Homo sapiens: one gene and its partners. The protein of the gene in region 1 interacts with the protein of each later gene in a pairwise test. Each region holds a gene or a part of one and is shown in the gene's direction. Other genes may lie near its edges.

Region 1 (7,025 bases):
ACTTCCTGACTAAAACATTTACAGATGATTTTGTTGTTCAATTAACGAAGAACTGATACTGGTATAATTTGATCACCTAGGCTTGTGGTTCCTACACGGGGATGTAGTAGCCTTCTCGAAACAGACATTTGAGCTCCTCTGGCTTTCATCCGAGCTTCTGGTGTTTAGTAGGAAATAGTCTCCGAAGTGCAGGTCATGTAGTCCTAGTGTTTTATAGTTATAAAGCTGAATTGTTCTTACAGGAGTTACAGAGGTCTATAAAGAAAATGTCCATAATCTCTCTGTCTTCAAGTTCTAGTTCCTTAGCCCTAAAGTCAGCAAAGTTAACATTTGGTGTCCATTATTCCCACACTTTTCTCTTTGTTCATATCATCGTGTATAAACATATACACAGGCTGGGCATGGTGGCTTTCACCTGTAATCCCAGCACTTTGGGAGGCTGACGCTGAGGTGAGAGGATTGCTTGAGGCTAGGAGTTCAGGACCATCCTGGGCATTAAGGGAAGACCCCATTTCTACAAAAAATAAAATATTACAGCTGGGTGCAGTGGTGTGTACCTGTAGTCCGAGCTACTCGGTAGGCTGAGGCAGGAAGATTGAGCCCAGGAATTTGAGGCTGCAGTGAGCTATGATTGTGCCACTGCACTCCAGCCTCTATGATAGAGGGAAAAAAAAATCCATATACAGACATTGATTATTTTATTTTTCTTTATGGAAGTGGGATTATATTATGCGTGTAATTTTTATAACTTTTCTTAACAGTATGTGAGGGTCATCCTTCCAGATCATTACATATAGCTCTAACATTGTTAATAGCTGCGTGATGCTCTATAATACTGGTATACCCTATATGCCACTTATTAATAAACTTAAGTTACTTTCATTTTTTCCATCATAAGTAAGACTGCTTAATCATTGGAATAATAATAGATTTTGTTAAAAAGGCACCCCTTTGGTATAAATCTCAAATGGCCACTATTTTAGAAACATTAACATGGAAAATAATATTTCTTCTAAAGTTAAGATTAACAGAACTGACTTTAATTTGTTTTATTTTAGTTATTAGATCTTTTGATGTCAACAAACCTGGCTGTGAAGTTGATGACCTTAAGGGAGGTGTAGCTGGTGGTAGTATCCTAAAAGGAGTATTAAAGGTAAAATGGGTTTTGGTTGTTGTGATTTTGGGTTTTTTTTTTTTGTTGTTTGTTTGTTTGTTTTATCCTTGTCTTAATCAGGAAAAAAAGTATGGACAATCCAAATTGAAAAATAAAATTTTTTCCATGGTTTCTGGTATTTGATGTAGAGTTCTCTTTTTTAATATTCTTTTTTTCTCTCTTCAAACTTCACTCCTCCCACCCTTCTAGACCTCTGAATCCACAATCTACCTTCATGAGATCCACCTTTTTAGCTTCCACATATACAGATGAGTGAGAATGTGTGATATTTGTCTTTTTGTGCCTGGCTTATTTTACTTAACAAAATGGCCTCCAATTCTAGATGTGCTGCTGCAAATGGCAGAATTTTTTTTTATGGCTGCATAATACTTCATTGCATATATATATATGCTGCCATTGCTTTTCTTTTCTTTTTTTTTTTTTTCTTGAGGCGGAGTCTTGCTGTTTCGCCCAAGCTGGAGCGATCTCAGCTCACTGCAACCTTCACCTCCTGGGTTCAAGCGATTCTCCCTGCCCCAGCCTCCCAAGTAGCTGGGATTACAAGCACCCCCCACCATGCCCAGCTAATTTTTGTATTTGTAGTAAAGACAGGGTTTCACCATGTTGGCCAGGCTGGTCTTGAACTCCTTACCTCAAGTGATCCACCCGCCTCGGCCTCCCAAAGTGTTGGGATTATAGGCGTGAGCCACTTTGCCCGGCCTATATACTGCATTTTCTTTATCCATTCATCTGTTCATGGGCACTTAGGTTGATTCCATGTTTGGCTATTGTGAACTGTGCTACAATAAACATGGGAGTGCAGATACCTCTTTGATAATATTGCTTCCCTTTCTGGTGAATGTATACCCACTAGTGAAACTGATGGATCATATGGTAGCTGTATTTTCAGGTTTTCAAGGAACCTCCATACTGTTCTCCATGGTAGCTATACTAATTTACATGCTCTGATAATAGTTTTTTTTTTGTTTTGTTTTTTGAGCACAGTGGCATGATCTTGACTCACTGCAACCTCCACCTCCTGGGTTCAGGTGATGATTCTCCTGCCACAGCCTCCCGACTTGCTGGGGCTACAGGCACTCGCAACCTCGCCCAGCTAATTTTTTTGGTAGAGATGGGGTTTTGCCATATTGGCCAGGCTGGTCTCTTAACTCCTGACCTCAGGTGATCTGCCTGCCTCAGCCTCCCAAAGTGCTGGGATTACAGGCATAAGCCACCACGCCCAGCTATATTTCTTTGTTTTCTGTTATGTCTTTTGAATGTGTCTGACTTGAAAATTTATAGACTTGTAAGTATGGAGCACATTTGATGTGGTAATAGACTTGTGTGGTGGGTAGTTAACAACAGTTGGATGGTTCTGGTTTTGACAGTCTCGTTCACATCTTTTTTTTTTTTTTTTTTTAAGAATAATGATCTTTGAAATACAGGAATGATTGCCTTTTCAGTTTTATGGTCTTCCGGTTGGACCTTTATTATTATTTTATTTTATTTTATTTTTGAGACAGAGTCTCTCTTTGTCACCCAGGCTGGAGTGCAGTGGTGCGATCTCGGTTCACTGCAACCTCTGCCTCCCAGGTTCTAGCAATTCTGCCGCAGCCTCCTGAGTAGCAGGGATTACAGGTGCGTGCCACCACACCTGGCTAATTTTTGTGTTTTTAGTAGAGACGGGGTTTCACTATGTTGGCTGGGCTGGTCTCGAACTCCTGACCTCAGGTGATCCACCCGCCTCGGCCTCCCAAAATGCTAGGATTACACATGTGAGCCACCGCACCCAGTCCCTGTTGGAACTTTTGATAGGTAAATGATAATTTTGCGTAACACAGTAATTCTAATTACTAATTATATGTTTACAGGTGGGCCAGGAGATAGAAGTAAGACCTGGTATTGTTTCCAAAGATAGTGAAGGAAAACTCATGTGTAAACCAATCTTTTCCAAAATTGTATCACTTTTTGCGGAGCATAATGATCTGCAATATGCTGCTCCAGGCGGTCTTATTGGTAAGGATTTTTTTCTCATCTCTTTTAATTTGTGGCTATTTGTGGTACTTTTCATGGGGGATGGATTACCAAAAGGGACATATTACAGATTTTTAATTGGGTATTTTAATAATAGAGTAGGGTGGGGAACAATCATGTGGTTAAGCTCTTGTTTTAGGTTATAAGATGGTTTCATGGGTTTGTAAAAATTATTTTTAAACACAAAGGATACATTTTGATCAAATATAGAGTAACTCCTTTTTAGCAATATAAAAAAATAAATTTGATGACTTATCATGTAAGATATTTACCTACACTTATGTTTTTGTTAACATGATTTTTGTGCTAGATAATGGTTGCCTTTTTTTTTTTTGGGAGATGGAGTCTCGCTGTGTCCTCCAGGCTGGAGTGCAGTGGTGCAATCTTGGCTCACTGCAGCCTCTGCCTCCCAGGTTCAAGCAATTCTTATGCCTCAGCCTCCCGAGTAGCTGGGACTACAGGCACATGCTGCCAGGCCCAGCTAAGATTTTTGTATTTTAGTAGAGACGGGGTTTCACCGTGTTGCCCAGGCTGGTCTTGAACTCCTGAGCTCAGGCAGTCCCCCTGCCTCGGCCTTTCAAAGTGCTAGGATTACAGGCGTGAACCACCATGCCCGGCCATGGTTGCTTTTATGTATATTTTGCAAATGGAAAATTACCTACAAATGTCAGTTGAATGATATCAGGTCGTATTTCCAATGAGGTAGAAATAAAAGAAAGTAAATTTCTTTGTGTAGCAATTACTGAAGTGATTTAAAAACTTTTCTAGTCCCTTACAACTTAGTGTATTACTCAATACCCAGAAAAATGAAAGATTCAGTGAGAATTAGAAGGGGTGTTGTACCTTTAGATTAAAGAAGAAAATGTTTGGTAAAGAAACAGTTAATTCTTCACCCAATAAGTTGTGTCTCTGGTTGAAAATTTTAAAAAGGAAATAAAAGAAAACAAAAAAATGAAAAAGAGTTTACCAGGTTGGCTGGGCGCAGTGTCTCATGCCTGTGATCCCAGCAATTTGGGAGGCTGAGGTGGGTGGATCGCTTGAGCTCAGGAGTTTGAGACCAGCCTGGGCAACATGGTAAAACCTTGTCTCTACTAAAAATACAAAAGTTAGCTGGGTGTGGTGGCCCACGCCTGTAATCCCGGCTACTCGGGAGGCTGAGGCATGAGAATCGCTTGAACCCAGAAGGCGGAGGGTGAGCCGAGATCACACCAGTGCACTCCAGCCTGGGTGACAGAGTGACACTCTGTCTCAAAAAAAAAAAAAAAACAAGAAGAAAAGAAAAGAAAAAATGAATTTACCAGGTTGGGTATGGTGGCTCATGCTCATAATTCCAGTGCTTTGGGAAGCTGAGGTGGGAAGATTGCTTGAGACCAGGAGTTTGAGACCAGCCTAGGAAACCATGAGATGCCATTTCTCCAATAAAATAGTAAGATTAGCTGGGTTTGGTGGTGTGTGCCTGTAGTTCCATCTATCATTTTATCTTTTGTGTGCATGTGTGTGGTAAACAAGGGAAATCTGGAAACTTTTTAAAAATTTAACTTAAGGAACTTTTTTAATTTCTTTTTTTTTTTTTTTTTTTTTTGAGGCAGAGTCTCATTCTGCCACCCAGGCTGGAGTGCAGTAGTATTATCTCGGCTCGCTGCAACCTTTGCCTCCTGGGTTCAGTTAATTCTCCTGCCTCAGCCTCCCGAGTAGCTGGAACTATAGGCACATACCACCACAGCCAGCTAATTTTTGTATTTTTAGTAGAGATGGGGTTTCGCCATGTTGGCCAGGCTGGTCTCGAACTTCTGGTCTTAAGTGATCTGCCCTCCTTGGCCTCCCAAAATACTGGGATTACAGGCGTGAGCCACCACACTTGGCCTAAGGAACTCTTTAAACATAGGATAGAATACTGTAATGATAACCCCCATAGAGCCATCACTCAGCTTCAGCAATTATTAATGTTTTACCAGTCTTGGCTGGGCGTGGTGGCTCATGTCTGTATTCCCAGCACTTCGGGAGGCCGAGGTGGACGGATCACCTGAGGTCAGGAGTTCGAAAAACCCTGTCTCTACTAAAAATACAAAAAAAAAAAAAAATTTAGTCAGGTGTGGTGGCACATGCCTGTAATCCCAGCCTGTAATCCCAGGTCACAGTGAGCCGAGATCACACCACTGCACTCCAGCCTGGGCGACAGAGACTGTGTCTCAACAACAGCAGCAAAAAAAAGTTTTCCCAATCAATCTTGCTCCATCTATATATCTTCTTTCCCCTACTCCCCTCAAGACACAGCTAGAATATTTTGAAGTAGATCCCAGGAATCATATGTAGTTTTTTTTTTTTTTTTTTTTTTTGAGAGTCTCACTCTGTCGCCCAGGCTGGAGTGCAGTGGCACGATCTCGGCTCACTGCAACCTCTGCCTCCCAGGTTCAAGTGATTCTCCTGCGTTAGCCTCTCGAGTAGCTGGGATTATAGGTGTCTGCCACCATGCCCAGCTATTGTATTTTTAGTAGAGATTGGGTTTTGCCATGTTGGCTAGACTTGTCTTGAACTCCTGACCTTAGGTAATCCTCCAACTTGGGCCTCCCCAAGTGCTGGGATTATAAGTGTGAGCCACTGCGCCTGGCCCATATGTAGTCTTTAACTATCTTTTCAATCAGTCTTTCAGGGGAGAAATGGCATGCAGGTATTCTGCAAACTACTCATTTTGAATTTTGTATTCTTTCGGTCTTTGTTAAGGATATTCGGACTCATTTTGAGTTCACTTATTATCTCTATTTGCCCTTTGTTTAGAATTTATTGTTTTCAAGACCAGGTCAGTAATACTTACCATCTCCTGCATTAAGTTCTCAGCCAAGCCATCATTCCTAGAAAATCAGATTTCTAAACCCTTTGTTTAGAATTTAAATCAAGAGAATCGTTCTGTTCTCATTTGCCCAGTCATCTCATGAGTGTATATTTCTATTTGTCTAGATAAAACAGGTATTTTCTTGTACCTATATAGCTATTATATGAGTATAAAAATAAAAGTATGAAAGTGTGTAGGTATATGCTGTGCTTATATGGCTTTGGGGTATCTAATTCACTTTTTTTTTTTTTGGAGACAGAGTCTCACTCTGTCACCCAGGTTGGAGTGCAGTGGTGCGATCTCGGCTCACTACAACCTCTGCCTCCTGGGTTCAAGTGATTCTCCTGCCTCAGCCTCCCAAGTAGCTGAGACTACAGGTGCACGCCGCCACGCCTGGCTAATTTTTTGTATTTTAATAGAGACAGGGTTTCACCGTGTTGCCCAGGCTGGTCTTTAACTCCTGAGCTCAGGCATCCACCTGCCTCGGCCTCCCAAAGTGCTGGGATTACAGGTGTGAGCCACTGCACCTGGCCAACTAATTCACTTTATAGGTGTTTTAGGAAATAAAAAATTGAGCTATATACATCTTATTTTTATATAGGAGTTGGAACAAAAATTGACCCCACTTTGTGCCGGGCTGACAGAATGGTGGGGCAAGTACTTGGTGCAGTCGGAGCTTTACCTGAGATATTCACAGAATTGGAAATTTCCTATTTCCTGCTTAGACGGCTTCTAGGTGTACGCACTGAAGGAGACAAGAAAGCAGCAAAGGTAAATGCTTTTTTAAAAATTCCTGTTTCTAAAAAAGTGACAAATGGGAGTGTTAAACCAGTGTTGAGTTTTATTGTTTTACAGTTAACATGAAATTAAGAAAAAAAGAAAAGGTAAATAAATTTGACCTCCCCAAAATTGAGGGTTTTTTTTTTTTTAATTTAGAGATGGAGTCTCTCGCTCTGTTGCCCAGGCTGGAGTGCAGTGGCGCGATCTCGGCTCACGGCAACCTCCACC
Region 2 (7,025 bases), on another chromosome or scaffold:
CCCTCAAATACCTATGAGTTGGGCAAATTTGTCTCCTCTTGAGGTCCCAAGATAGCTTGGGGTTCCTGAGCCTGTTTGAAAGTGACATTCTTTACTTACCACAGGTCAGGAACCTTGTACAGAGACTCTGTGTGGACGGGGTATAAGGCCAGATTCCCCAACGGGCTTTAATTGGCTATATAAGTCAACTTTGATTCTTTAAAAAAAAGCATGCCATTCCAGTCAAAGCCTTGGTAAAATAACCAATTTCTCCAACTGTGGCCTGTTACAAAAGAAAACAGATTCTTATTGCACTTATGCAATTAGCTATACTGCCATAAATTGAGAATATTCACAAATAGTTTCCAAATTCTGGAGAAATCAGGTAGAGAGGAACAATATGCTGTAAATTTTGTTCACAGGAGTTTATTTTACTCACATGATAAAAGTTGCAAATAGTTCTAAAGAAATAATTTCTCTTGACTCTGAAAACAAAAGGTTTAGCAATGTTTAACACATTAGCTCTCCGTGAGAGTCCTAGAAGTTTGTTTTTTTCCTCTATTCCAATAGCACAGTTCTTAAAGTTATCTGAGACCTGCACTTAGAGTCCTATATTTGATTATAAACTGCATTTTGAAAAGGACCAAAGCAAGATAAAATGTCTGTGGATGACAAAAGTCTATAGCCACTATTAAAGCTACAATTGACTAGGAATTTTGGTTACTTCTGTGGCATACAACAATTTTACATAGCAATTATAATTATTAATGTACACTAAACTATATCAACATTATAGAAGTTTCCCATAATTTTGGACACATACTAATAATATATTTATACAAATACAGTCTAAAGTAAACCAAACACCATTCACTCTTCTATTTGAAAGTTTTTCCTCTATTCTAATGTCACAATCTCCAGAGTTATTAATCAGAAACCTGCATTTATTAGCACCTGTTAAATTTTATAGCTGATTATAAAACCATCTTTTAAAGAGGACCAAAATGAGACAAGTGTATGACAAAAACATTTTAGGGCAGCCACAGTTAAAGGCACAATTGGCAAGGAAATTTGTTACCTCTGTGGCACACAATCTGTTAACATAATCATTATAATTATTACTGATAACATACACTAAGTCATATTAGAATTATAGAAGTTTTATGTAATTTTGGAACATATACCAATAACATTTATACAAATATAGACCAAAGAAAGCCAAACACCATTTCATATTTGACAATGCCTCCTGTATGATTTTGTATCAGATAAGCCAAATCATTTTTGGGCTTTAGAGGACCTAATATCTAAAAGGTTAGAAAGAGACATAATTTTTAATTGGATTTTGGAAAGTTTGTCAAATATCAAAGGTTTAAAACACTGGATATCACAAAATAGAATCCCAGGTCACCATAAGTCATTCGTTTAGCCAAAATGATAACTCCAAAAAATTTTTTTGTAAAGAAAAACTTTTACTCTGTTAGAGGAGACTTAGCTTTCCAAACAAGACTCGATGAAGATAGCATGAGGCCAACTGAATCTGTCTCTTCTCTCCCTCTCCTCTTTTTTTTCCCTGCCATTCACCCAAAGGAGAAAAGAAAACCCTTTCATTATCTTTTAACATTACATAAAAATCATCTTCAGAAGAGAAAAACAAATTTCATATTTGTACTAGCGCATCTTTAATGTTAAAGCTAGTTTTTTAAATAAAATTTTATATCTCTACCCAGTTTTAATTAGTTTGACCATACAGTAAGATTTTCATAAACTTTTTAGAACCCTTTACAATTTTCCACCAAACAGTAGGTCAATTTTCTAAGAAAACCCTGTTATTCAGACACGTGGGTCCAGATTCTGGCCCCACATCAGTATGATTTTAATGTTTTAGCCTACAGAAAAAAGCTAAATAATTTCTTTTAAATCTTAGCCAACTTGTTGATACCCACAGAATTTTTACACGATCAACCCTTTACAAACCTTTTTTACTTAGCTTAAATCTTCAGTTTCGATTCTGTTACTCTTTTAGGTTAAGACAATCTTTTTTTTTTTTTTTTTTTTTTTTGAGACAGAGTCTTGCTCTGTTGCCAGGCTGGAGTGCAGTGGTGCGATCTCAGCTCACTGCAACCTCCACCACCTCCCGGGTTCAAGTGATTCTCCTGCCTCAGCCTCCCAAGTGGCTGGGACTACAAGCGCCTGCCACCAAGCCTGGCTAATTTTTTTTTTTTTCTTAAGTAGAGATGGGGTTTCACCATATTGACCAGGCTGGTCTCGAACTCCTGACCTTGTGATCCACCTACCTTGGCCTCCCAAAGTTTTGGGATTACAGGCATGAGCCACCGTGCCTGGCCAAGACAATCTTTAAAACCCTCTGAACTAGACAAAATTACATTCCCTTTAACAAAAGCTATGGCTAAAGCTATGCCAAGTTCACATGGCATTCTCTATCTCTGTCTTCCTGTGGCCAGCTTCTTAGGAGGACACTAGTCATATTGCACTAGGGACCCACCTTACCTTAGTAAGACCTCATCTTCACTGTGCTTACATCTGCAGTGACCCTATTTCCAAATAAGGTCATATTGTGAGGTACTAGGACATATCAAAAATGTTTTTTTGTGGGGACACAGTTCAACCCATAACATTCTTTAACTCTTTTATATAGTATATCCCTATCTGTAACATTTTTTTTTGAAACAGGGTCTCACTTTGTTGCCCAGGCTGCTGGAGTGCAATGGGCGATCTCAGCTCACCACAGCCTCGACCTTCTAGGCTCAAGTGATCCTCCCACCTCAACCTCCCGAGTAGCTGGGACTACAGGGGTGCACCACCATGCCCAGCTAATTTTTGTATCTTCTGTAGAGACAAGATATCGCCATGTTGCCCAGGCTGGTCTCAAACTCCTGGGCGCAAGCAGTTCACCCAGGCATGGGTACATACTCCAGTATATGTTTGCTTATTTATGTGAATATTATAATGTAACATTGTACAAAATAATGTACATTAAAAGATAATCTTACCCTTTTAAAATGTTCAGGAAACCTATAACCTTTTCTAGCGGGAGCAATTGCCTCTGCTTTTTATTTTTTGAAATCATAGGGTTTTTGTTTGTTTTGTTGTTCTTGTTTGTTTTGTTGTTGTTGTTATTTTATAGAGATGGGGACAGGTTTTTTGTCTTTCTGTGGTGCTCAAGCTGGTCTTGAACTCCTAGCCTTAAGTAGTCTTTGCACCTTGGCCTCCCAGAGTGCTGGGATTACAGGCATGCACCACTGTGCTCAGTCTTTTTTTAGAGGTGGAGTTCTCGCTCTGTTGCCCAGGCTGGAGTGCAGTGGTGTAATCATGGCACTACAGCTTTGAACTCCCGGGCTCAAGCAGTCCTCCCACCTCAGCCTGCAGAGTAGCTAGGACCACAAGCACACGCTACCATGCCAGCCTAGAAATCTTGGTTTAATACTTGATGGAATAGTAAGTTGGAGGTCAGAATCTAAGATTAGTTTATTTTGATACTTTAATGGCTCTCATAGTTGAAAATGGTACATCACAAACATATGTAACATCATTGGCTGCTCTTAATAAATCATAAAACTAATTTTTTTCATCCTCATTTACTCATTATCCAAAGAATTTGGTTGAAAATTTTCTATTAAATTTCTAATTTATTGAGTGCCAAAAGTTGTCTTAGGAATCATTACAAGATTTTGCATTTTAATGTTTTTAACAAGTACAATATGTTCAAAATCCACTCATTTTATTATTGGGAAGTTTTGGGGTTTTTTTGTGGGGGGTGGACAGAGTCTCGCTCAGTCCCCCAGGCTGGAGTGCAGTGGTGTGATCTCGGCTCACTTCAACCTCTGTCTCCCAGGTTCAAGCGATTCTCATGTCTCAGCCTCCCCCAAGTAGTTGGGATTACAGGTGCCCACCACCACGCCTGGCTAATTTTTGTATTTTTAGTAGAGACCGGGTGTTACCATGTTGACCAGGCTAGTCTCAAACTCCTGACCTCAGGTAATCTATCCGCCTCGGCCTCCCAAAGTGCTGGGATTACAGGTGTGAGCCACCACACCCAGCCTTTTGGGAAGATTTTTAACACGTCAGAAAATTCTGTTTCTTTGTTTAAGTACAGATGTGAGAACTGTATAGGTGACACACTTGAACTGATGGTGACAACAAAGAAACATTTCCAGGTGCCTTCTTTAAAAATGCTATCTCAGCCTGTAATCCCAGCACTTTGGGAGGCTGAGGCGGGTGGATCACAAGGTCAGGAGATCGAGACCATCCTGGCAAACACAGTGAAACCCGTCTCTACTAAAAATACAAAAAAATTAGCCAGGAGTGGTGGCAGGCGTCTGTAGTCCCAGCTACTCGGGAGGCTGAGGCAGGAGAATGGCATGCACCCGGGGGGCGGAGCTTGCAGTGAGCAGAGATCCCGCCACTGCACTCCAGCCTGGGTGACAGAGCAAGACTCTGTCTCAAAAAAAAAAAAAAAAAAAAAATGGTATCTCAGTATCATGAAGAGTAGTTACTTTATTGGTCGTTGTTAAAATGTCACCGTTGCCATTACCAATTAAAATGTTTTCCGGCTGGGCGCGGTGACTCACACCTGTAATCCCAGCACTTTGGGAGGCCAAGGTGGGTGGATCATCTGAGGTCAGGAGTTCGAGACCAGCCTGGCCAACATGATGAAACCCCATCTCTACTAAAAATACAAAAATTAGCTGGGCATGGTGGCACGTGCCTGTAGTCCCAGCTACTCAGGAGTCTGAGGCAGGAGAATCGCTTGAACCCAGGAGGTGGAGGTTGCAGTGAGCTGAGATGGCGCCACTGCACTCCAGCCTGGGTGACAGAGCAAGACTCTGTCTCCAAAAAATAAAAATAATAAAATAAAAAGTTTTGGCTCATTTCTCATTCTGATCTCAATCATTTTCACTCCATAACTTGATTGCCAGCAAGCTCATAATTAGGAGGAAGAGTAGCAGCCTGCCGTTTTCTTGGTCACTTGCACGTATAATAAGATCTTCAGCCTCTCTTTCTTTGAGGGAATCTTTTTGGAACAATGTATCCATATTGTGAGGATTGATTTAATAAGATGGGATGGTATAATCCACAAGTCCACATAGGCAGCCACTCCCATACTGCAGGAGGTCACATTGCGCTGATGGAACCTGTGGTCCCCATCAGGGCTTCCCTGGGGGCACTCCCACTCTTTCTTCACGATGCGTCTCTTAGACCCGAGACCATCTGTCATGGGAGCTGAATGAAGGCTCCAAGACAATCTCTACAGTAAATATTTGTACATTTCTTAATTTTTAATTAGAAATGAATATTAATGTAGTTACATTGTTTTTCCACCTTTCTACTGTGCTTTGGTGATCTTGGCTCTAACTAATAGTATTGGGTCATTTAATTTAATTTTATTTATTTATTTATTTTTTGAGACAGAGTCTCGCTCCTGCTGCACAGGCTGGAGTGCAATGATGCAGTCTCGGCTCACTGCAACCTCCGCCTCCTGGGTTCAAGCGATTCTCCTGCCTCAGCCTCCCAAGTAGCTGGGATTACTGGTGCCCACCACCACACCCAGCTAATTTTTGTATTTTTGGTAGAGACGGGGTTTCGTTATGTTGGCCAGGCTGGTCTCAAACTCCTGATCTCAGGTGATCCACCAGCCTTGGCCTCCCAAAGTGCTGGGATTACAGGTGTGAGCCACTGTGCCTGGCCTGGTATTGGGTCATTTTAGAGAACAGGGCATAGCAACAGCAAGCCAGGGAGCTGATGAAAGCAGAATGATACTTCGGCATCACCCCAGTGTCTTTGCTGCTCTCTTCGTAGACGTACCGTGAGCCCGTGTCAGACTACCAGGTCCTGCGGGAGAAGGCTGCATCCCAGAGGCGCGATGTGGAGCGGGCACTTACCCGTTTCATGGCCAAGACAGGCGAGACTCAGAGTCTTTTCAAAGATGACGTCAGCACATTTCCATGTGAGAGTTGCCCCACTGTGTGGACCCTGTCTTATTTGAAACACTCACATTATCTTTTCTTTCTCTCAGCATGGTAGGAAGAAACAAATAAGCTTTTGTCCTTCCCTTGGGTACAGCTTGCCTCTCAGATTTCTGGCTCCCTTCCCCAGGTCTTAAGAGTCTGTCCTTAACTGACGACTCCAAAACAGTAATGGTCTCTGTTGGGACTGGCTGCTTGAGGTCCATAGAGTTACCTTGAGGGTAGCCTAGGCCTAGGCATCAGAGACACTTGGTGGCAGCCCAGGTAGTAGAAGAACATTGGCATCAGGGGCCAGTTGCCCATCGTGATGTTCCCTCGTAGGTCCCACCTCATTTAACTTGGCATCTCAGCACTATTTGGCCATGTTGACCAAGCTACTTCATTTCCAAAGACCTCAGTTTTTACAAATGTGAGTGAGGGAGGTTGGTTTGGGTGATTCATTCATTCAGCAAGCTCCTGTGGAACGCCCGCTGTGTGCCTGGCTCTGGAATAACAGCAGCTGCCGGTTGTTAAGTGCCAGATACTGTGCTCATCATTTCCCATACATTATCTCATTAAATCCTCTTGTGAGCCTCTGAGTTGGGAACTGATATATCACTACCTTCATAGGAACCCTTCAATGAGGCACAAGAGAAGAGAAATGAAGTCACTTCCTCAAGGAACATGGCTAGTAGACATCATTCAAACCTAGCTCTTACTGCAGGACCCCACATCTGACCCACAGCAAAAATAATTCTGGAGTTTTTGTGGGTTTTTTTGAGACAGAGTCTTGCTTTGTCATCCAGCCTGGAATACAGTGGCGCAATCTCTGCTCACTGCAACCTCCGCCTCCCGGGTTCCAGCGATTCTTCTGCTTCAGCAAGTAGCTGGGACTACAGGCAGGAGCCACCACACCCAGCTAATTTTTTGTATTTTTAGTAGAGACGGGGTTTCACCCAGTTGGCCAGGTTGGTCTTGAACTCCTGAGCTCAAGTGATCTGCCTGCCTCAGCCTCCCAAAGTGCTGGGATTATAGGCATGAGCCACCACACCCAGCCAATTCTAGAGTATTTTCTAACAG
Region 3 (6,805 bases), on another chromosome or scaffold:
TTTTTTTTGAGACGGAGTTTAGCTCTTGTCGCCCAGGCTATGATATTTTGAGACAGGGTCTCCCTCTGTCACCCAGGCTAGAGTGCAGTGGCATCTCGGCTCACCGCAGCCTCAACCTCCCGGCTCAAGCCATCCTCCCACCTCAGCCTCCCAAGTAGCTGATACTACAGGTGTGTACCACCACTCCTGGCTCTTTTTTTTTTTTTTTTTTTTGAGACAGGGTCTCCCTCTGTCACACAGGCTGGAGTGCAGTGGCATGATGTCGACTCACTGCAGCCTCAAGCTCCCAGGCTGAAGCAATCCTCCCGCCTCAGCCTCCCCAGTAGCTGGGAGGTGCGAGTCACTATGCCCAGCTAATTTTTGTATTTTTTTGGTAGAGTTGGTGTTCTGCCATGTTGCGCAGCCTAGTCTCGAACTTCTGGGCTCAAGCAGTCCTCCCTCCTGGGCCTCCTACGGTGTTAGGATCACAGGGGTGAGCCACTGCGTACAGCCATGTTTTCAGTAACCTTTTAACTGAAATTTAGCATTTCCTTTCACTGTGAATTTAGGTAACAAACCACAGTAGTATTAGCAGTATCTGTGGTTTCATCTCAATAGCAGTTACAGATATGCTTACTTTAGAATGGCTGTGGATATCTTGAACCATAATTTGTATGCATTGCTAGTTTTTTATTACATTTATTAGAGACTGCTGCTAGATCTAGTTAATATGATAACAAAGAAGTAGACTTGTACTCTATCAAATATCTGGGTTTAATTTTCTTTTTTATTTTTTGAGAAACAGTCTGGCTCTGTTGACCAGGCTGGAGTGCAATGGCGTGATCTTGGCTCATTACAACCTCTGCCTCCCAGGCTCAAGTCATCCTCCCACCTTGGCCTCCCAAGTAGCTGGCACTACAGGCATATGCCACCATGCCTGGCTAATTTTTTTTTTTTTTTTTGGTAATAGAGACAGAGTCTCACTTTGTTTTCCAGGCTGGTCTCAAACTCCTGAGCTCAAGCAATCTGCCCACCTAGGCCTCTCAAAGTGCTAGGATTACAGGCGTGAGCCACCGCACCTGGCCCATGCCTGTAATCTCTTTGAGAGTCCAAGGTGGGAGGATGGCTTAAGCCCAGGAGGTTGAGGCTGCAGTGAGCTGTTATCATGCCACTGCACTCCAGCCTGGGTGACAGAATAAGACCCTGTCTCAAAAACACAGAAAAAATAAAAATAATAACATTACACCGAATAGGGGATCATGGGCTTCACAAAACTGCCAAAGCAGTCCACAGTAGAAAAAAGGACGAAAACCCCTGCTTAATAGAAATATTCATTGTCCTAACTCAAAGGAATGCTTGACTTTGGGTGTGGTGTTGTCTCTCTGATCTGAGTCCATCTCTTGGTGCCCTAAAGGGGAGAGTCTCTGGGACTCTTGTCCCCATAGCAAACAACTGCATCAACTGCATGCAGGGCATTGGATAAGGGAATGTCCCAGGTGTAGAGAATCAATCAGTTGCAGGCCTACTTGCAACCAGTGGGCTGACAGCGAGCCATACCCTCACATTCGCCTGAGAAAAGTGGCTGCTGGCCTTCTCTCTACTGAGATTTGTCCCCTGATACTTATCATCCTAGCCACAGCCAGCTGGACCAGAGATCTCCCTTGTGTTTGGGTGGTGGCCTGAGGAGTGGCCAGGCAGGAGAGCCGGCCAAATAGGTACTTTCAGATTGAATAACAACTAATCGACCCAGTTGGATCCTGTCCCTTGGGAAGTTGGAATTTGAACACTTGAGGGAGTCGACAGGTGGCAGGGCCAGCAGAATTGACAGGCACACAAAAAAAAAGGTGAAGGGAGAAGGGGAAGTGGAGCCAAGCGTGGGGATTTGCCAAGTGAGGGTGGCCTTCCACCCCATTCATTCAGAGGAGGTCTGGCTGAGCAGCCCCCAAGAGCCCACAGAATTGTGGAGGGCCAGGGGTCCCCAGCTGCGTAGGGCTCATGGGAGAACATGAGACAGGCCAGACACCCAAAATGAGGAAGTTGGGGGGGCTTTTTTCTCAGCCTTCCTGACCTGGCGTGACCTCCTCTGGGCCCATGTAACAGGCCTCCACACCCCCTTATGCCTGGTGCAGGCACCCTGTTAACTTCTATGTCCCTGTAGGTCCCTTTCCAAGGACTCTACCTGCTTGACTGCTCCCAAAGCAGCCAGAGCCAGTATTGCCCCTGGTGGGGAATGGAGCTGGAGAGCAGGCTGGCAGCAAGGAGGAGAGAGGGACAGAGAGGTCTGTCACTCATTATCCCAGAGAAGCATCATGGGGTGGACTCCTCTGACCTGGCTCCTTTTGTTTCCCATGGCTGGGGTCCTTCTTTCCCTCTAGAGCCTGTAACGCCCCCGCTCTGTCAAATTCCTCATACAGCAAACTTATTCTACTCTCTTTACCCAGAAATAGGTCAGACTCAACTACATCCATATCTGATTTCTTCCTTTGTTTTTTTTTTTTTTTGTATGTTTAGTAGAGACAGGGTTTGACCATGTTGGCCAGGCTGGTCTAGAACTCCTGATCTCAGGTGATCCACCCACCTGGGCCTCCCAAAGTGCTGGGATTACAGGTGTGAGCCACGGCGCCTGGCCCCCCAACAGCATTTTAGAGATGAGGAAATGAGACTCAGAGAGGAGTCTGATGGCTATAGTAAGAAATGAGGAGTCAAGCTCCTTAGTGTGCGCTACAAAAACCCTGCACACCTGACTGTGTTTGCAGCTCCCTGCCACCCATTCCCATCCTACCCTCCCTTGCCAAACAGATACACTTGCTTTCTCCAAAATATGCCCTCTCATCTCCAAGTTTTTGCTCCTGATGTTCCCCCAGCTAGAATACCCCTAGGATGTCCTACTGAATTCTGAGTCAAACTTTAAGACTCAAAGTATGGGCCAGGCATGGTGGCGCATGCCTATAATCCCATCACTTTGGGAGGCCAAGGCAGGAGGATCACTTGAGACCAGAAGTCCGAGACCAGCCTGGGCAACACAGTGAGACTCCATCCCTAAAATAAAACACACACACACACACAAAAATTACCGGAGCATGGTGGTGCATGCCTGTAGTCCCAGCTACTCAGGAGGCTGAGGCAGGAGGATGGCTTGAGCCCACAAGGTTGAGGCTGCAGTGAGCTACGACTGCACCACTACAGTCTAGTCTTGGCAACAGTGAGACCGCCTCTCAAAAAAAAAAACAAAAAAAGACTCAAAGTGTGCTCCACTGTTCCTTCAGTGAGGCATCGGGGGCTGTGTCCTAAATGTCTTTGTATCTCCAGCCCTTCACATTAGGGCCTGGCAAGGTAAGAGACCAATAAATATGTACCCTTTGGCTTCATTTCACTAAGTCATTAGGGTCCAGAGGTATGGTCAGCACTTGGAACCCTGTGGAATGGCCTCAAGATCAGAGTCCTCTTGCCCAATTCTTGGCTGGGAAGTAGGTGACATCTAGAATCCATGAGGGTATGGGTGATCTCCTGGGTTCCAGACATTTGCATTGAGTTTATTCAATCACTTAACAATATATATTAGGTCTGGGCTGGGCACGCTGGCTCACGCCTGTAATAATCCCAGCACTTTGGGAGGCCAAGGCAGGCGGATCATCTGAGGTCGGAAGTTCGAGACTCACCTGACCAACATGGAGAAACTCCATCTCTACTAAAAATACAAAATTAGCTGGGTGTGGTGGTGCATGCCTGTAATCCAGCTACTTGGGAGGTTGGGGCAGGAGAACAGCTTGAACCCAGGAGGCGGAGGTTGCAGTGAGCCAAGATCATGCCATTGCACTCCAGCCTGGGCAACAAGAGTGAAACTCCATCTCAAAAACAAAACAAAACAAAAAAACCCAATATATATCAGGTCTGTTATGCTCTAAACACCGTGCCGGGTGCTGAGGATCAAAGATGAATAGAGAAATGAACTGAAATGATATAGTGAAGTTAAAACTTAAAGAACACAACAAATCTGTAAAAGACAAACAAAAGAGGGTTTAATCTGTGCTTCTGTCCAGGTGTGTGGAGCTGGGGGTGGGGTTGCACCTGCCCGGGAGCATTCCCAAGGCAAATATTTGAGAGGAATTAGATTTCTAATACCCAGGTTGGCTCTCACTTTCAGGAAGATGTGAGACCTGAATCCTAACCTGGACGCATTGTTCCCCTAATTCCCAGCAGCAGATCTATGAATTAGCGGTCTGGGTGGCAGCCCATTCTTCTTTCAGAGGCCCAGAACACCGTGAAACTATGCTTTCCTGACTCAAGAGACCCTACCTAGACGTGGGCCCCTTTGACGAGCACCTGCCCCTCAGGAGGGTCTCAGGCGACCTTCTTGGAAGGTGTGACCACTTGAAAAGGACGAGGAGGCCAGGCGCTGTGGCTCTCGCCTGTAATTCCAGCACTTAGGGAGCCGAGGCGGGAGGATCGCTTGAGTCCAGGAGTTTGAGGCCAGCCTGGGCAAGATTGGGAGACACTCCCCACCCCGCCCCATTTCTACAAGTAATTAAAAATTTAGCCGGGCGTGGTGGCGGGAGCAGGAGCCACTCAAGAGGCTGAGGCAGGAGTATCACTTGAGTCCTGGAGGTGGAGACTGCAGTGAGCGGTGATCGCGCCACTGCATTACAGCCTGGGCGACACAGCGAGACCTGTCAATCAATCAATCAATCAATCAATCAAGAGGAGGCTGGCGGGAGCATGCTCGTGACCACCGGGGGCGACATAGACCCTAACCCTAAGTCCAACCCCAAGGCAGACCCCACCGTCCCGCCAGGCGCACTCCTAAGAGCGCGGCTTCCGGAGCAAAGCCGCTGACCCCCGCCCCCAGGGTCTTGGCGCCGATTGGCCAACGAGAGCGCAGGGCGGAGCCAAATCTTAAAGGATCCGGGAGCTAAGCCAGACCCGGGTGGCGGTGGCAGCTGCGAAACCCAGGGAGCCGATGCCACGTGACCCAATGTGGACTTCTTTTAAACCTTTCTAATGCCCATAACCCAGCCTCAGACCCATGGAGCCCACGAGAGACTGCCCGCTGTTCGGGGGCGCCTTTTCCGCCATCCTCCCCATGGGGGCCATTGACGTAAGGTGAGAAGGCCGGGGCGCCCAGGGGCGGCTGACTGGGTGGGTTGTGGGAAGAGACCGGGGTCAACCAGGGTCTGCCTCGCCTCACTCCAGCGACCTCCGACCGGTCCCGGACAATCAAGAAGTTTTCTGCCATCCCGTGACGGACCAGAGCCTGATAGTGGAACTTCTCGAGCTGCAGGCCCACGTACGGGGCGAAGCGGCTGCGCGGTGAGGGAATGGCCCCCGGCTGGCCAATGGCAGGGGCGGGGTCGGACCAGTGGGCGGGGCCCGCGGCCGACGGTTAATCCGGGCGGTGAGACCACGCACGGGCCGGGAGCCAGGCCTGCAACTTAAAGATGCTCCCGGGGAGGCGACCAGAGATGTCCCTTCCTGACCCCGCTTCCCTACTCCAGGTACCACTTTGAGGATGTTGGTGGCGTGCAGGGGGCTAGGGCTGTCCATGTGGAGTCTGTTCAGCCTCTCAGTTTGGAGAACCTGGCCCTGAGGGGCCGCTGTCAAGAAGCCTGGGTCCTCTCTGGCAAGCAGCAGATAGCTAAGGAAAACCAGCAGGTGAGGGCCCGAGAGTGTGTAATGTCCTGGAAGGGCGGTAGCGGGGACGCAGAGATCCAGGTAAGCATCCTGACTCTGATCCCCTTAGGTAGCAAAGGACGTGACACTTCATCAGGCCTTGCTGAGGCTGCCCCAGTACCAGACTGATCTCTTGCTTACCTTCAATCAGCCCCCGTAAGGAGGAAGGAACGGGCGGGTATCTCATGACTGGGTTCCCAGGAGAATCGGGCTGGGAGGGACAGAACAGGGAGACTCACTGGTGGGATCCTCCAAGGAAGCAGGAGTGGGCCAGAGGTTTGGGGTAACTGATACCCAGGTCCTCTGGGGAACAGGAATTGGCAATTTCCAAACCTCAGGCCTGGATGATGTTCTGTCTCCATCTGTTCCCCCACCCCAAGCCCTGACAACAGGTCATCTCTTGGCCCCGAAAATCTGTCACCTGCACCCTGGAGCCTGGGTGACTTTGAACAGCTGGTGACCAGTCTGACCCTTCACGATCCTAACATCTTTGGTCCCCAGTAAAGGCGCTGAAGCACTGCATGATGTTGCTGAGAACTTGGGGACTCGGTTCTGTGAGGGGGAAAAGAGGTTGAAAAGAGGGTTTCCTCTTATTTCTTCCCTGTGCGTAAACATAAGACAATCCCTCTTCAGAATAAACTTGCTTTATAATCAATATAATCTCTGTGCCTTTGAATCTAACAGGACACCTGGGTCCCAGACGCCTGGGAATTGGGTCTCTCGATTCCCTTTGGTTTTGGAGGGAGGAGTTTAAAACTGTGCATGGGAGCAGGAGGGACTCAAGGGTGGCAGTGGTGAGTGGGAGGAAATACACTTTGGGATGACTCGTTCAGCCCTGAGAGAGGGGTGTGAGTTACCCAGGGAATGGGTAGGGAAGGTTTAAAGCAACACCCAAGGAAAGAAGGGAAACTCATCTCTTGTAGTGATTCAACCCTGAGAACAGATGGGGAGTGGGGTTGGCTGTCCCCCATGGATGGATGAAAGGTCACCTAATCAGTAGTCACCAGGACATAGTGGTGGAGGCACAAGTGGCCAAGGAGTGCTCATTTGGTGGAGACTGGGAAAGCGGCTGTTATTTAGTGTCTGTGTAGTAGAGGGAGCGCAGCTGGTCCCAGAAGAAGAGGGAGAGGATGGTGTGGGGGCCGAGGCGGAAGTAGGA
Region 4 (7,503 bases), on another chromosome or scaffold:
CTGGCCTCATCACAGTGTTCTGCTTTTATCTGCTCCTGAAAGCTGGGGTGTGCTGTAGTAAACTTAGAAACAGGAAATACAGAACAGCCATTTTCTCCTGCTGATCATATTCCCTGCCAGTTTTCTACTACCTGGCCCACTGATCGCCTTGCCAGATGTCTTCCCAGCTGTAATAAGCCCTGTTTCCCAGGACTCAGTCATAGCCATAACCAATGCTTTCCCTAGAAATGGCTCTTACAAAGTCTCAGGAAAGCTGAAGTTGGACAACAACCTTTTTTTTTTTTCTTTTTAAGAGACGGGGTCTCACTCTGTCAACCAGGCAGGAGTGCAGTGGCACAATCACAGCTCACTATCACCTCAGCCTCCAGAGTATCCAAGACTACAAGCACACACCACCGTGCCTACTTATTTTTTTGTAGAGATGGGGATCTGACTTTGTTGCCTGGGCTGGTCTTAAACTCCTGGCTTTAAGTGATCCTTCTGTCTTGGCCTCCCAAAGTGCTGGAATTATAGGCGTGAGCCACCATGCCCAGCCTATACCACAACCCTCATTCAGCTGGTCTCCCCCGGGGAGGCTTCATCTAACAGAGCCAAGACTGTCCTCTCCATACACTTAGGTTTGTGTTTGCTACTTGGTTTTTATATTAATCACCTTTCACATCCATTTATATGCAAAATTAATAGAAATAAAGGATGCAATTTGTCATCAATGATGGTTCATAATAATCATTTAGGCACTTGTAGAATGAAAACTACTAAGGTTTCTAGGACTAAGAAGAAATACTAAAGTAATACACTTATTACCACCAAAGCCACTACATTTTTTGAGGTGTATATTTCACAAGGTATGCATAATTTAGATGACAAATTAAGGCTCAAATTTTAAGGATGAATAGCTATTTCATTGATCTCACATGGCTCACTAGGCAACAGATTCCCATTTAAAAGGGATAATTGAGTTTAATGGGATGCTAACTATAAGGGGCTGAGTAGGGTTAAGGGAAACCAAGTCAAGATATCCAGTCAGCAGTGTCCAGTAGAAATTTCTGTAACGATGAAATGTTCTACATCTACATTGTCTAATACAGTAGCCAAAGCCACACATAGTTATTAAGCACTTAAAATGTGGTCAATGTGACTAAGCCACTGAATTTATTAATTCGTTTAAATAGTCACATGTTGTCAATAGCTACCACATTGGACAGTACAGTTCAGGTCTAGCAAAGAGCCATCACAACTCCTAGGCCTGAAAAGGTGAAGTAAAGGAACAATTACTGAAACCTGGGATGATGCAGAATTAGAACTCTGTCTTCAGGAAAGGATTACACGGCAGGAGCTGTAGCCTTTGACAGAAGAATGCTGCCACTGCCAACTTGCAAACCAACAGGGGAAGAATTGGGAATAAATACCAACTCACTCTCACTCTTCTTTTTGCCCCCATTCCCCTCTGGTGCCTCTGACTGGTGGAACTCAACCAAAAAGTAAAGAGAGCTCCTTGATGCAGCCCATAAAGGTCAGCCTCTTGGAGCACAGAACAGTGAAAGGTGGAGAGTATATCTGGAACAAAACATTATTATACCCCGTGCAAAATGAATTGAGGCATCAAAAGTTTGCTTTATTGACACTTATAAATCTAAATAAATATGGAACCAATAGCAAAACATTTAAAAAGTATGTTGGTAAAGGAAGTCCTACAAGTGTTTCCTGTTGTTAAAACTATCCGAGTTTTCTGTTGCAACAAACAGGACAATGTTTTAATCAAACTGTGACTGTGTTCATTTCAGGTTTCCTACATGAAGAATTGTCAATACTACGCTCCCTCAACTATATTCAACCAAGGATCTGCGTGAAACTTTTTCTAAGGTACCATCTCAAATATATTCAACCACGGAACTGCGTGTAACTTTTTCTAAGGTACCATCTCAAATCACAAGGCCTGGGATTGGGAAATTGTTTTACTTTACTAAAGACCACTGTAACTCAATAAACGAACTTAGATTAGAAAATTAGAGGCAGACCACTACTCCTCTCGGACTGCATGGCCACTGTCTTCAGCTGTTTTCTGTAGTGATTGTTTCTAGGTATTTTACCTATTTTACCAACCTTTTTCACTTTTTGCACTGAATAGTGCTAAGGGAAAAAAAGGATGGGGAAAGGAGGAGTGGCAGTATCTATAGCTAGAGGGTCATCCTATTTGTGGAAAACTTTATTGTCTACTTTAGTGGGTCCTGAATATTAGTCCAGTCCTTACTGCCCAGCACTTAAGGAAGAAAGGTCTAATGTGACTGTATGGGGGTTGAAGTAGGTACCAAAGGAAAAGCAGTTCCCACCACCTCCAAGGAGCAGGAGCTGTTGCTCTTCAGGAAGAAGGATACTAGTATGGTTGTGTAACATTAATGGCCATGGCACATATGTTGTGTCAATCTGATACTCAGAGCTCAATCCTGTAGTCAAATTGATCACAGTCACTCCAGGAAATGAGGAGGAATGAATCCAGATCCCTCCAACCAGTAACAGCTTTCCATTGAGCACATGAGCTGTGTGGGAGTACCTTGGGGTAATGGGAGGCTGGATGTCTACTGACTCCCAGAGGAATCCACAAGAGATTGGTCTCAGAAAGAGCACAGAGTTCAATGGCTCCTCAGAAGCCCCGAGACCTCCAGCAATAAGGGCTCCCCCTTGCCAAGTGCAGGCACTGTGAGAATGCCGGGCTTCAGGTACTTCTCCCTCCACTGGGATCCTGACCCAAGCCATTGTCCCTACATGGAGGAAATGCCAGTCACTTAGTACAGGTTCCACCACGCTTCGACCCCCATACACAAACAAATATTCCTGATTCTGACAGGACACTTCTGTTGTTGAATGCCGCCAACAACACAAAGTGGAATCATCCTTTCGGCCAGCCTTTGTTATTGTCACTTTCAGGTCCTCAGTGTTATTATCCTCACTCTTAAAAAAATGAAGCTGGAGAACCCCCAAGGCTGGACTTACTGGGGACAGTCTCCCTCCCAGAACCAGAACCCGACTCTCTGAGAGTCTTGTCATGGTGTGATAAAGGCGTCCATCCCACTGAACTCCAGTCCCACAACTGCCTATTTGGCTGCCTTTCCATTCAGAGTCACAATCTCTTGAGAGCAAGTGAAACTGGCTCACTCGGCAGTGCCGCCCCTCCTGCTCTCCAAATCCTCCTGCACTGAGAATAACGTCTGGGCTCAAGAAGACAGAGGCGTGGCCATATCTCTTCAGGTTTGGGACCTGGCCCTCGCTACTGACTACGCTGGCAGGGAATACCCCTGAAGGCGAAGCAGGATTTACGCGAGGAAATGCCTCTGAGGATGGAAACACTAGGGTGTGGGAGAGGGTGTCTCCCCTAGAAGCTGCCAGAATGAAATAATGGGCGCACTTCAGATGCCACTCCTCAAATTCGTCAAAGGGTTCAATATTTTCCACCCGCCGGCGTTCTTCTGCGGGAAGAAAGCAGTGATAGAATTCATTCATGTCCACGGCACCGCAGGCGGTCCAGCCAGCTTGAAGGAAGCGGCGCCGCTGCGCCTCCACGTCAGGAAAACGCTCCAGGCCATGCAGGGGGGAGTTTAGCTGCCGAAAATGTTGCAGCATGAACTGGCCAAAGGCGTCTTGAGGCCTCATCTGCTCATAGACCACGAAAAGGGCATTAGGAAAACGCTGGGCTGCCCAGGCGATGAGGGCCGCGGCACTCTCCGGCTCGAGGTAGGTCAGCACCGCCTCGGCCAGGAGCAGAGTGGGTGAGGCTGCGTCGAGCCCCGCGGCGCCCAGGGCCTCCTCCACTCGCTGGAGCTGCCGCAAGTCCAGACCCAGGATGCAGTAGTCTGCGCTCTCAAAGCACAGCGCGGACGCGGGCTCCCCCCTCTCGAAAGGCCCGGTTAACGCGCACAGCTCTGGCGTCTCTCCAATCCTTTCTGCTTTGCGCCGCGCCACGTCCGGAAAATCCACCTCCCAGACTGCAGCCCGGGCCAGGCGGCCCGCGGTTTTTAAGCGAAAATAGAGCGAGTCGAAGCCAGCGCCGAGAGACAAGATCTGCGCGCGAAGCGCGGCCTGGGGCGCGCCAATCTGCTCCAAAAAAGCGCGCACGCAGTGCCTCACGGCGCGTGCGCGGACGTAGTAGCCTCGGTGAATGAGCGGTGCGCGGCGCGCCGCGCCCGGAACCAGCAACGCGGCAAAGGGGTCCTGCACGTACCCGCGCGCGGCCAGGGAACGCTTGCTGAGGGCGCTGCTGTCGTTGGTGTTCTGTACCGCGCCTGCCCGACGCTCACGGCTCCGGGGGCCCATGGCCAGAAGAGACTCAGGAATGGCAGTCTGTCACGGTTGTGAGCCGCCCCTTGGTTAGCACACACCTCACGGACCTCGGTAGGGGGAAAAAAACCACCCATGCTCCTGGACTTCCCCTTCCGCCGGCACTTGTGCGTCACTTCCGGGAAGAGCGCATCTCGCCAACCAGAATTGAGGAGGGTGTAGCCAGTGCTAAGTTCGCTTGCGGCTGACCTTTCTTTGGAATGTCGTGAGTTCCATTTGTCCCAGAATACGGTCCGCTACCGCTGTGACATGAGTGTTAGGGAAGGCGGGTTGTCACGTTTCTACAAGCCTTCCAGTCAAAAGGGAAACCTTGCCTAAGTCCTTGTAGTTGAGAAATCTCTAAGAGGTGAGTCTGTGGGGACTGACGACTTGGCTTCCTTGGACCGCCAAGGAAGGGTCTGGTAGGAGCCAAGAAGGGTCGGCACCACGGACCTTCAGTAGGCAAGGATTAGTTAGCTTCCTTGGGTGCTAATAGTTGCTGATTTATTTAATGCTCTCACAGTTGCAAAAGAGAACCCCATTTAAAACTTGAAAACAAGTCACTAAGGCCAGGGTGCAAACTGAAGAAACCGACCTTTACAAATAATTTATAGACACCTAACAAGAAGACGTTTCCCCACAGATAGTAGACTGTTGATTCCCTTGTATTCCCAGCCCTATGTTAGACTGACGGTGAATAAACCACTCAGCCTCTCTTTCTCATCACACCGCCTTGGAGAATTCTGTGGATTTTAAAGTAGTGTTGAATATGTCCCCAGAAAGGGGAGTCACTGAAGAGAGGTGATTGTTCCCTGTGATATGTTCTGAGCTTTGTTTTTAAGGAGTAAATCCAGGTTAGACTTCAGAATAATCATAAAGTTTCTAAATTGGGTGTCTGGGAGTCATCCATAGGAAACCACTTCCAGAGACATTTAGGAAATTTATCATTTGTTCACTGGGATTTGGTGACTGACTGGCTGAAATAGAAAAGGAAATCAGATAACTTTATGGTTAACTACAGGTGGTACTGCATAATGGTTAAGAGTGTGAGTTTTGGAGTCCAGCAGATTTGGATACTGGAGTCAAGAAAAAGTTTCGTATTTTCCAATGTTTTCTTGTGGAACAAAATGAAATAAGAAAGAAAAGGTTTGGATCAGGATAAAGATTCGGTAATTGAAAAGTGACATTTAGATTTGGTGTTTAAAAGCTCATTAATGGCCTTAGGGAGAGCAGTTTCTGTGGAGCAATAAGGGCAGAATCCATGTTTCAGTGAATAGGAGGTGAGTTAAAGGAGGTATCCAGTCTAAATTATTATACTTTCGAGGAGCTTAACTCAGAAGGAAAAAAGGGTCAGGGCAGTGGCTAAAGAATATTGTGGGATAAAAGAGTCTTTTGTTTTGTTTTCAGGTGGAAGCAAATACTGCACATGCGTGTTGGTCCTGTGAGGGAAACCAGCTAGTGGAGAGGGAGAGGTTGAAGGAACAGAAAAATGAGAAGACAACTCACTGGTAGAGTAACTTGGAATAGATAGAAATGGGATCCTGGGCACGTATTAGTTGTGGGGATAGGAGAATGAATCCTTTATCTGTGACTCCTGATGGGGTAAAAAAAAGATTATGGATAATCATAAGCTCAGGTGTGAGGTAGGGCAGAGAGAAAAAGAAGGAATTTGCACCTGATGGCTTCTGTTTTCTCTGTAAAGTTGGTGACAGAGTTGTCAGTTTAGTGTAAGGCATTCAGATCTGATGGAACATTTGAGCAGTTTGAGAATTGCTTCTGAAGGGATTAGAAGAAGGGCTCACCTATGCCTGCTGGGTCAGTGGATCCTCACCTCTAAAATGAGATTAAGTACTGCTTCGTGAGGTATCTCAGGGTTGATTGAGGGGCAAATAGAAAAAAAAAAAAAGTTGAAGGACTTTGAAAAATACGTAGCACCATAGAAACAAATTTATTTAATGACAGGTTCCTAAAATGTAGGTGTTATGTCAAAAATACTACTTGTTTTGCAAAGACCAGATCAAGAAAAGTAATTAAAGAAGAAAGAGAATGGAGTAAAATTTCTGATTTCGATGCCTTATGATTTAGGCCGGGGGAGGAGGGGCCATTGTTTAAATCTCAGTTTATTCTTATATAAAATGGGGATAATAATATCTCAGGGGTTGTTGTGAGGATTTAAACAAAATAACTATCTAAGACACCACAGTGCCTGGCTCATGGTAAGTGCATAATAAACAGTAACAAATTTTTTTTTATTCTGAGTTCCCTTTTGGGGGAGTAGGTGGGAGCATGAAAAAAGTTCCCTGGGAGACAGGATACTTGCTTCTGGCCCTGCTCTAATATTGATGAAGTATTACTAACGTGGATCTTATCCCAGTGTTTGTTGCCTTCCGTCCCAGAGCAAAACCAGTCCAGAAAAGTTAAATTTGTCATGGCATGCTGTTGTTGGTATCCATGTTTTAGGCAAGGAACAACAATTTTTTTTAATGTGTAAAGATTATGATTGCTTAGTTGCTTTTTAATTTCCATAGGTTAACATTGTAGCCAGTGGGTCAGTAAATTTACTCACAGCTAGTTAAAGGTCAGTCTGGAGGATGGTTTGAATGGGGCACAAATTAAGGTCAGGATCCTGGAGTAAAATTGAAAATCTGGCCGGGCGCAGTGGCTCGCTCCTGTAATCCCAGCTCAGGCTGGTGGATCACTTGAGCCCAGGAGTTTGAGACCAGCCTGGGCAACATGGTGAGACCCCGTCTCTACAAAAAAAATTTTATATAAAATTAGATGGGCATTGTGGTGCATGCCTGTGATCTCTGCTGCTTAGGAGGCTGAAGTGGGAGGATCGCTTGAGTCTGGAAGCTTGAGACTGCAGCAAGCTGTGATCGTGACACTGCACTCCAGCCTGGGCAACAAAGTAAGATCCTGTCTCAAAAGAAAAAAAAAAAAAGGTATGTTTTTCCATTTTAATTAAATCATTTATGTTTTTCGGTAGAGATATTAAATGCCATTGATTAAATAGTCCATCTTTTTCATTTTTTACTATTTATTAAGCACTTACTATGGCATTACTTTGAAATGCCATGTTTATCTCATACTAAGTAGGCCTTTCTATGGATTTCTATGGCTATGTTTAGTCCTATACAAACTACTTTCTTTATTGTACATTTTAATATCTTGGTAACTTATTTAACCCCACTC

The links.
Region 2: the proteins of EIF2S3 (region 1) and TAF8 interact in binary tests that used the Homo sapiens proteins (3 or more experiments, as listed by UniProt).
Region 3: the proteins of EIF2S3 (region 1) and RANGRF interact in binary tests that used the Homo sapiens proteins (3 or more experiments, as listed by UniProt).
Region 4: the proteins of EIF2S3 (region 1) and MAPDA interact in binary tests that used the Homo sapiens proteins (3 or more experiments, as listed by UniProt).

The regions. Positions count from the first base shown.
Region 1 is NC_000023.11:24,064,940-24,071,964, forward strand, and holds part of EIF2S3 (eukaryotic translation initiation factor 2 subunit 3), read left to right. Parts: intron 1-1,058; coding exon 1,059-1,153; intron 1,154-3,024; coding exon 3,025-3,169; intron 3,170-6,618; coding exon 6,619-6,788; intron 6,789-7,025. UniProt on the Homo sapiens protein: Member of the eIF2 complex that functions in the early steps of protein synthesis by forming a ternary complex with GTP and initiator tRNA.
Region 2 is NC_000006.12:42,060,513-42,067,537, forward strand, and holds part of TAF8 (transcription initiation factor TFIID subunit 8), read left to right. Parts: intron 1-5,799; coding exon 5,800-5,947; intron 5,948-7,025. UniProt on the Homo sapiens protein: The TFIID basal transcription factor complex plays a major role in the initiation of RNA polymerase II (Pol II)-dependent transcription.
Region 3 is NC_000017.11:8,283,787-8,290,591, forward strand, and holds RANGRF (ran guanine nucleotide release factor), read left to right. Parts: upstream 1-4,883; 5' UTR 4,884-5,002; coding exon 5,003-5,079; exon of another isoform or gene 5,080-5,169; coding exon 5,170-5,286; exon of another isoform or gene 5,287-5,471; coding exon 5,472-5,628; coding exon of another isoform or gene 5,629-5,716; coding exon 5,717-5,802; coding exon of another isoform or gene 5,803-5,806; exon of another isoform or gene 5,807-5,829; coding exon of another isoform or gene 5,830-5,857; exon of another isoform or gene 5,858-6,026; coding exon 6,027-6,150; coding exon of another isoform or gene 6,151-6,198; 3' UTR 6,199-6,301; downstream 6,302-6,805. Other genes in the region: SLC25A35 (solute carrier family 25 member 35), read right to left, coding at 6,719-6,805. UniProt on the Homo sapiens protein: May regulate the intracellular trafficking of RAN. Promotes guanine nucleotide release from RAN and inhibits binding of new GTP by preventing the binding of the RAN guanine nucleotide exchange factor RCC1.
Region 4 is NC_000015.10:43,326,182-43,333,684, forward strand, and holds the start of MAPDA (N6-Methyl-AMP deaminase), read left to right. Parts: upstream 1-4,490; 5' UTR 4,491-4,678; intron 4,679-5,718; 5' UTR 5,719-5,819; intron 5,820-7,129; 5' UTR 7,130-7,253; intron 7,254-7,503. Other genes in the region: LCMT2 (tRNA wybutosine-synthesizing protein 4), read right to left, coding at 2,248-4,308. UniProt on the Homo sapiens protein: Catalyzes the hydrolysis of the free cytosolic methylated adenosine nucleotide N(6)-methyl-AMP (N6-mAMP) to produce inositol monophosphate (IMP) and methylamine.